Linked DNA regions of Homo sapiens. The protein of the gene in region 2 interacts with the protein of the main gene of each other region in a pairwise test. Each region holds a gene or a part of one and is shown on either strand. Other genes may lie near its edges.

Region 1 (3,912 bases), on a different chromosome or scaffold from region 2:
GTCAGATAGGGTGTTTGGCTGGAAGGTACTCACAGGAAGATAGGCATGTGCACAAACACCCAAATATCTAAAATACAAAGCATGGCACACTGACAATCAACAAAAACAAAAAATGCAAAGCAGAATGTGAGACCTGCCCCAAGGGAAATCAGATAAACTGCTGAAGAAGTTCAGATCAGGGGCTGTTCTCTTTCACCCGGAAATGGTGTTCTCTTTCACCTGGTGTTCTCTTTCACCTGGAAAGTTCAGGAAATAGACCCTAGGGGCTGGAGCCCAAATCTGAAAAACCTTCTTTATTCTTCCAACCGTAGCGATTTTTTCCTGGCTCCACTTTACAGAAGTGAAAACCAGGACAGAGACATGAGGAATTATTTGCTCTCTGATCATCCAGGTGGTTAGCAACACAGCCAGATAGAGAACTACAAACTGATGATTGAAAACTTCCCCTAAAAACTGATGGTGAAAGCACATACTACTAGGAAGCTCATCTTAGAAGACAAAATCCATAGAGCTGTTCCCTCTGTCTCCCTTCTTAGGTCAATCCCAAAGACACACCAACAAAAAGTCAAAGCAGGATTTAAAAAAATGTCATAAGCAAGCTGGAATCATATATATCTCTGGCCTAAAGGAAGCCAAGGTCTCTGCAGTGTCAGATCGTCAGATCCTCCTCCTGGGGAGGCCATTCTTTTTGCGAAGTCTCCAGTCCCATTACAAGTGAGTTGCCGGGGACTTCATGTAGGGGGAACAAGAGCTAGCCCACAGATGAAAACCCAGGCAAGCCCTCTGCTTTTGCACAGTGAACGAACGTGCCCACAGGCTTCTCAGCATTGAATTTGAACGAGCCAATGGTATCCCAATCATTGAAACAGGAAGCCAGATAAACAGCATGTTATCAAGGGGGGATCCAGCTCTTCCCTTAAGCCGGCGCCAGCTGCGCCCTGTGACTATCCTAACAAAGTCCCATTGACTCACCAGCTGATTTTCCTGTGTTCGGCTCCAGGGGACAAGGAACCCTCTCTGCCGGGTGGACGTCACCCCTACACACCGCCCCCGCCACCCGCCACTCGCGTCCTCTCCAGTTCCTGCCTCCCCTCTGCCCGCTGCAAACTTAGCTGCTTCTTTATCCTATGACCAGTTTTTATCGGCTCTGGGGATTAGCAGGGACCAGAGCCCAAGCCTCGGGAGCGCTCAGGTGAGCTCCCCGTGATCACCCAATTTCTGCGTTCTCCTCTCTCCCCTCTCCTCCGGGACCACTTTCTCCGCTCCCAGACGCACTGGGCGGGCGCCAGAGAGGACGGCCTCCGGGAGATTGGCGGGAGGGCGCTTCCCGGCGCATCCCGGGGGTGCGGGGAACGTTTTCTGGAACGGCCCGCGAGGTCACCTGCCCCAGCTGTTCCTCTGGCTCCTGCTGGGATGGGAGGAGTTAACTCTTGCTTCAACGAAAGGCAGAGGTGCGGGTAGGGTGTGTGCTTGCCGTGTGGGTGCGAGTATAAGAACGCAGCACCTGGTGTCTCATGATAAGATCTCAACGCACTTTAAATTGTGGGTATTTCACAACAAGGAAACTGAGGCTCAGAGGGACTGAAGTTAGGCAGCCCCCCCGGAGAGTCAACTCTAGAATCAAACGCGCAGTCAGTCCCATAGGGGTCGAAAGGGCACACACCTTCCCGGGAAGCCGCGAGCATCTTGGTTGTTATTTATTCCAGCGCCTCTCCCGAGCCCAGCCCACAGCCTCCCTCGGGCACCAACCTCCCCTACCCCGAGACTTGGTCTCGGCCTCGCAGGACCTGCCAGCCAAGCCTCGCAAAACGGGAAGCGCCAGACCCTCAGCGCCGCGACCGCGCGACCGCCCCGCGCCGGCCACTCACCGGAGCGCCTGCCCGCCCGGGCTCCGGGTCCGCGCCGCAGCCGCGCAGAGTCGCGCATCCCCAAGGGCAGCGCGGGTGCGGGGTCCGCTTCTCGCGAGCACAAAGTTTCCCGGGGCTCCCCAGGCCGCCTCGGCCCCTCGCACCAGGCTTGGCGTCCGCCGCGCACTCCAGCCTCGGGCCCCGCACTAGGGCAGCCGCCGGCCCCGGCCCCACAATGAGGAGGGAGGCGGCATCCTGAACAAAGTGCCGTCCCCTCGGGAACGGCGGCCGGGGCGGAGCCTCGTGACCCGCTGCCCCAGGCACACGCCGGCTGCCTCCACGGCGGGCCCAGGAGGGGAGTGCCTGGCGGCCGGGGGGCGGGCAGGAGGAGAGAATCCGTCCGATCGCCCTGGCTTTCCTCCCCCTGCACTGTGCCAGTTTAACCCGCAGAGGGGCGGAGGCATGGGTCCCTTCCAGACTTTGTCATTGGAAAGCTATTCCCGTAACCCTTTGCTGCCTTCGCCTTCCCGTCCCGCCTCCCAGGCTGGCCGCAGAAAGGCGGCTGCTCGGTGGCGGACCCGCGAGCTGGCAGGGCAGGAAGCCTTTGCACAATTGAGCCTTTCCTTTGCCCGGGGACCCGCCACCGCCACTTCCAGGCCGGGTTTCCTCCCTCCCCCACATGTCGTCCGGGTACCGCTCGCTGGTTCAGCCGCAGTTCTTTAGGAGAAGGGGACAGATGGATGGGCCAGCCTCTCCACCCGACTTCTGACCCCGGGCACCCACCTCCTTTCTTTCTCCACCCCACTGAACTGTCATGCTGTCTGAGCTGTCTTAGAGGAGGGGGAGGCCCCGCAAGTGCCCCGCAAATAGTAGGTGCTCAGTAAAATAAGTGACTTCTCCCCACCTTCCAGACAGCCGATGCCCCTCCTCCTTCTTCCAGGGACTTGGGAGTGGGAGGAGGGGGAAGAAGAGGAGAGAGGAAATGACAGGACCTGAGGAGAGTGAATGGGAGGAAGGCCCTCAGCCAGAACCTACTGCAGAAGCAGTGCAAGCCCCCTGCCTCCTGGCTTGGGGACTTCCAGGGTCTGCAGGAAGAAGGCAGAAGGAAGCCAGATGACCTGAGCTTTGAAGCAGGCTTTGGAAAGGGAGTAGCTGTGGCCAAGGACCCAGCAGATTCCCCTGCTCCTGCCAACAAATAAGAGGACTGATCTATTCCCAGGGCCATGGGGTTGCAAGTTGGAGGACTGATGGATAGAAAGCAAAACTGCCTACTCCCTGGGAGGTCTCACAGCTCTTTGCCAGCAAAATCAGTGTGAGCAGAGTCAGGATGAGAGCCCTTGAGTCCTCCCTGAACGCCCCACACAGTCAGTAAGGCCACAGTGGCTTTGAATTTGGAGAGATGAGACACCAGACAATGGACAAGCAGTGACATTCAAGAAGTTCCCAACTGATCAGGGAAAAAGATTTGTTGTATGATTTTTGTCCATGAAGGGAGTGAACTGCCTTTTGGCGCGGGATAAGGGGGTGGACTGCAGAGTGACACCCTTACCCTCTGTATAAAGACTAGAAGTGTGGGCTCTTAAGGCAGACTGCATGAGTTCAAATCCTGGATCAATGATTTTTTAGCCATGGGAACTTACTGAACTCTTTAACCTCTAGCTACCTCAGTTTCTTTATCTGTAAAATGGGATAATAATGGTTCCTATCTCCTAAGAGTGTTGGGAGGATTAAATGCGATACTATAGGTGACACACTTAGAATAGTGCTTGGCACATAGTAAATGCTCAGTGAACATTAGCTGTTACTTTGATCTTGGAGTAACTAACTCTTGGAGATCTAACTCTTGGAGATCTAACTCTTGGAGATGTAACTCTGCGCCCAGTTTGGCATTCAATGATGTGCTAGCTAGAATCCTTTTGTGCTCTTCCCAGTCCTGCAAAGGGGAGCCTAGTCCTTTAAGAAGAAGCACTGTCCTTTCTTGAGAGCTCAAAAGGTGGGACCCCAGGGACCAAGGACCACACAGTAGGTATGCAAATGACTATCAGAAGGTGAAATGACTCCTTGA
Region 2 (3,912 bases):
GACACTATTAAATTATACTTTTGGCCGGGTGCAGTGTGGCTCACGCCTGTAATCCCAGCACTTTGGGAGGCTGAGACGGGTGGATCACCTGAGGTCAGGATTTCGAGACTAGCCTGGCCAACATGGTGAAACCCCGTCTATACTAAAAACAAAAAACAAACAAACAAAAATATACTTTTGGGATATGTATTTGATCTCAATAACTTAATTTCCATTCATTATTGAACACCTCCAAAGGACAAGGCAATGTTCTTTCTAGGTCTGGAATATAGCAGGGTGTAACAAAAGTTAACTTCAGTTTAGTAGGTTGGAAAAAACATAATATGTAGAAGATGTCAGGGTATAAATGCCACAGAGGAAAGTAAAGTAGAAAATGGGGATGGAGGCTGGGCGCAGTGGCTCAGAACTGTGATCCAGGGCTTTGAGAGGCCGAGGTGGAAGGACTGCTTGAGCCTCGAAGTTTAAGGCTGCAGTGAGGTATGACTGCACCACTGTACTCCAGCCCAAGTGACAGAGCAAGCAGAGCAAAACCCCGTCTCTCTCTCTCTCTCCAAGTGTGTGTGTAGGGAGGACAGTGGGTAGGGGAGATGGAAATGTTTCAGAATGGGATTGCTTGTTATTTCACAAAAGGTGGTGGGAAAGAACTCAAAAACGCTGACACCTGAGTAAAGACCAGAACTAAGAAAATGAGGGAAGAACAGTGCAGGAGGGCTAATAGCTAATACAAAGATCCCCTGGCACATGTGAAACTCACCTTAATACCCATCAATTTCCTAAATTTGACATTTTGGTCCTTGTTTCCAAAATTCAATTTTTCCCATATTTCAGCAGATTGGGATTTGTCCTGTTAACAAACACTGAACTTTAAAATATGTAAAATTTAAATATTTTTTAGGACATGAAATCTCTCAACAATGTCTAAATTAAAAAAAAAAACACCATGGATAGCATTCAATCAATGTAAGTTTAATTATTTCAAGACTTAAGAAACCACAAAGCAAAGAAATACAAGCAAGAGGTTGGCGCCGTGCTTCACTCCTATAATCCCAGCACTTTGGAAGGCCGAGGTGGGCAAATCACCTGAGGTCAGGGGATCGAGACTAGCCTGGATGACTAGGTGAAACCCCGTCTCTACTAAAAATACAAAAAACTAGCCTGGCATGGTGGTGGGCACCTGTAGACCCAGGAGGGTCTCAGGAGTCTGAGGCAGGAGAATTGCTTGAACCTGGGAGGCAGAGGTTGCAGTGAGCTGAGATCACACCACTGCATTCCAGCCTGGGTGACAAGAGCAAGACTCTGTCTCAAAAATAATAAAAATAAAATAAAAAAATGGATTATTTTCCTGTCATAGACCTTTTTCAACATGCAATTTTTGCGACTGCATGTCATTTGCATTTAATGTCATTTGTCATTGCAAATAATGTCAAAAAAAAAAAAGTACCTCATAATCTATGAAAAATTCTAAACCAAGTAGCCTCTTTTCCTTACTACTTCTATGGTAATATTAGTTTTCTTTGAAAGCTTGACTTCAATCAATTATGTTTTATTTTAGTATTAATAACTGGCAAATAAGACTATCATAGCTTATTATAAGTTTTTTGAGACAGGGTCTCACCCAGGCTGAAGTGCAGTGGCGTGATTTTTTTTTTTTTTTTCCAGATGGAGTTTCGCTGGAAACTCACTGCAACCTCCGCCTCCCAGGATCAAGTGATTCTCCTGTTTCAGCCTCCCAAGTAGCTGGGATTACAGGTGCCCACCACCATGCCTGGCTAAGTGGCATGATCTTGGCTCACTGTATGTAGGCTCTGCATCCCAGGCTCAAGCGATTCTCCTGCCTCAGCCTCCCAAGCACCTGGGATTACAGGTGTGTGCCACCACACCCAGCTGATTTTTATCTTCTTTTCAGTAGAGACAGGGTTTTGCCATGTTGGCCAGGCTGGTCTTGGACTCCTTACCTCAACTGATCCGCTCACTTGGCATCCCAAAGTGCTGGGATTAAAGGCATAAGCCACCCGCGTCTGGCCACCCCAGGTTCTTACAAAGTTAAGCCGAAAGTAATATTTTTCAACCCAAATTTGTTTTTCTAAGCAATTACTAATTAGGAATAAACGACAGAAAAGCAGAATAAGAGAACTTACCCCTTCTTTCTTGCCCTGCCAAAGCATTTTCCTTTTTTTCTCTTGTTCAGCAAATTTCATTGGATTAACAGCGGCTGGGTTATAGTAGCTAGGAACAGCTATTCCTGTCTCTGCCAAAGCTTTAGCTTGCAGGGCTGCCATCTGAGCTGCCATGGCTATCTGAGGTGTTACTTGTGTTCCTGATGCCAACAGGGCAGCAACATTGAGAACAGAACCTCCAGTAGCTGCAGCTGCTTGAAGAGAATACAAAAATGGATTTTAAAACGATTTTAAAACATAAACCTCCTGATTTACATTAACGAACGATTTATAAAAAGCTATGAATGTGCAAAAAGGCAGGATTTTCACCAAATCCAAGGAAATGACTGAGTATTAGCTCACAAGTTTTTAGCAAACATTTATTGTGTTCATCAACGGACATATTTCTACATAAACCCTTGATATATAAACCATTTATTGCAAGGCGCAGTGGCTCACGCCTGTAATCCCAGCACTTTGGGAGGCTGAGGTGGGCGGATCACCTGAGGTTGGGAGTTCGAGACCAGCCTGACCAACATGGAGAAACCCCGTCTCTACCAAAAATACAAAATTAGCCGGGCGTGGTGGTACATGCCCGTAATCTCAGCTACTCGGGAGGCTGACGCAGGAGAATCACTTGAACCCAAAAGGCGAAGGTTGCAGTGAGTCGAGATCATGCCACTGCACTCCAGCCTGGGCAACAAGAGCGAAACTCCGTATCAAAACAAAAAAAAAACCCATTTATTTACTTTGAGGATAGAGAATTCTGCAAATAGTAAGAAAGTATGATTTCAGTGGAGATGAACTATAGTGTTTCTAAGGTATAATTACAAAACAATAAAACCTTGTATTTTTTTAAATTTATGAAATGTTCTCATGGACATTTCATTTGATGCTCACATCATATACTTGAAAAACAGTATGCAGCTAAGGCTGGGCGCAGTGGCTCACGTCTGTAATCCCAGCACTTTAGGAGGCCAAGACAGGCGGATCACAAGGTCAGGAGTTCGAGACCAGCCTGGCCAACATAGTGAAACCCCGTCTCAAATAAAAACTACAAAAAAATTAGCCAGGCGTGGTGGCAGGCGCCTATAAGCCCAGGTACTCAGGAGGCTGAGGCAGGAGAATCACTTGAACCCGAGAGGTGGAGGTTGTTGTGAGTCAGGATTGTGCCACTGTACTCCAGCACAGGCGACAGTATGAGCCTCCGTCTCAAAAAAAAAAACAAAAACAAAAACAAAAAAAAACCCAAAAACAACAACAGTATGCAGGTATTATGCTAAGTCCAAGTTCAATAAAGCCCTGGTATTTCCACTGTGATTGAGCAGTCCTCTGTAAAAAAAGACACCTCTGATTACCTATTTTTGTCAGTCCAGAATATAACCTTAAAAAGTACTTAAATTACCAACATTATGGGAACCAGAGTTACCAAAGAGAGTAATGATGTAGTAAAAATAAAATGGCTATTTGTAAACTTTTAGAGTTTCAAATAAGTGCCACTGTTTACCAAAAATGTAAAAAACAACAAAAAACCATCTTCCAGATTAAATTTCATACCAAATCAACAGTAAGCTCTTCGTGATAATTTTTTGTTTTTTGTTTTTGTTTTTTTCTTTTTCGTGAGACAGGGTCTCACTCTGTCACCCAGGCTAGAGTGCAATGGCGTGATGTTGGCTCACTGCAACCTCTACCTCCCGAGTTCAAGCCTCCTGAGTAGCTGGGACTATAGGCACACACAACCACGCCTGGCTAATTT

The links.
Region 1: the proteins of RSRC2 (region 2) and NAV1 interact in binary tests that used the Homo sapiens proteins (3 or more experiments, as listed by UniProt).

Annotation. Positions count from the first base shown.
Region 1 is NC_000001.11:201,537,299-201,541,210, reverse strand, and holds the start of NAV1 (neuron navigator 1), read right to left. Parts: upstream 2,085-3,912; 5' UTR 1,869-2,084; intron 1,193-1,868; exon of another isoform or gene 1,066-1,192; intron 1-1,065. UniProt on the Homo sapiens protein: May be involved in neuronal migration.
Region 2 is NC_000012.12:122,506,080-122,509,991, forward strand, and holds part of RSRC2 (arginine/serine-rich coiled-coil protein 2), read right to left. Parts: intron 2,372-3,912; coding exon of another isoform or gene 2,369-2,371; coding exon 2,139-2,368; intron 845-2,138; coding exon 755-844; intron 1-754.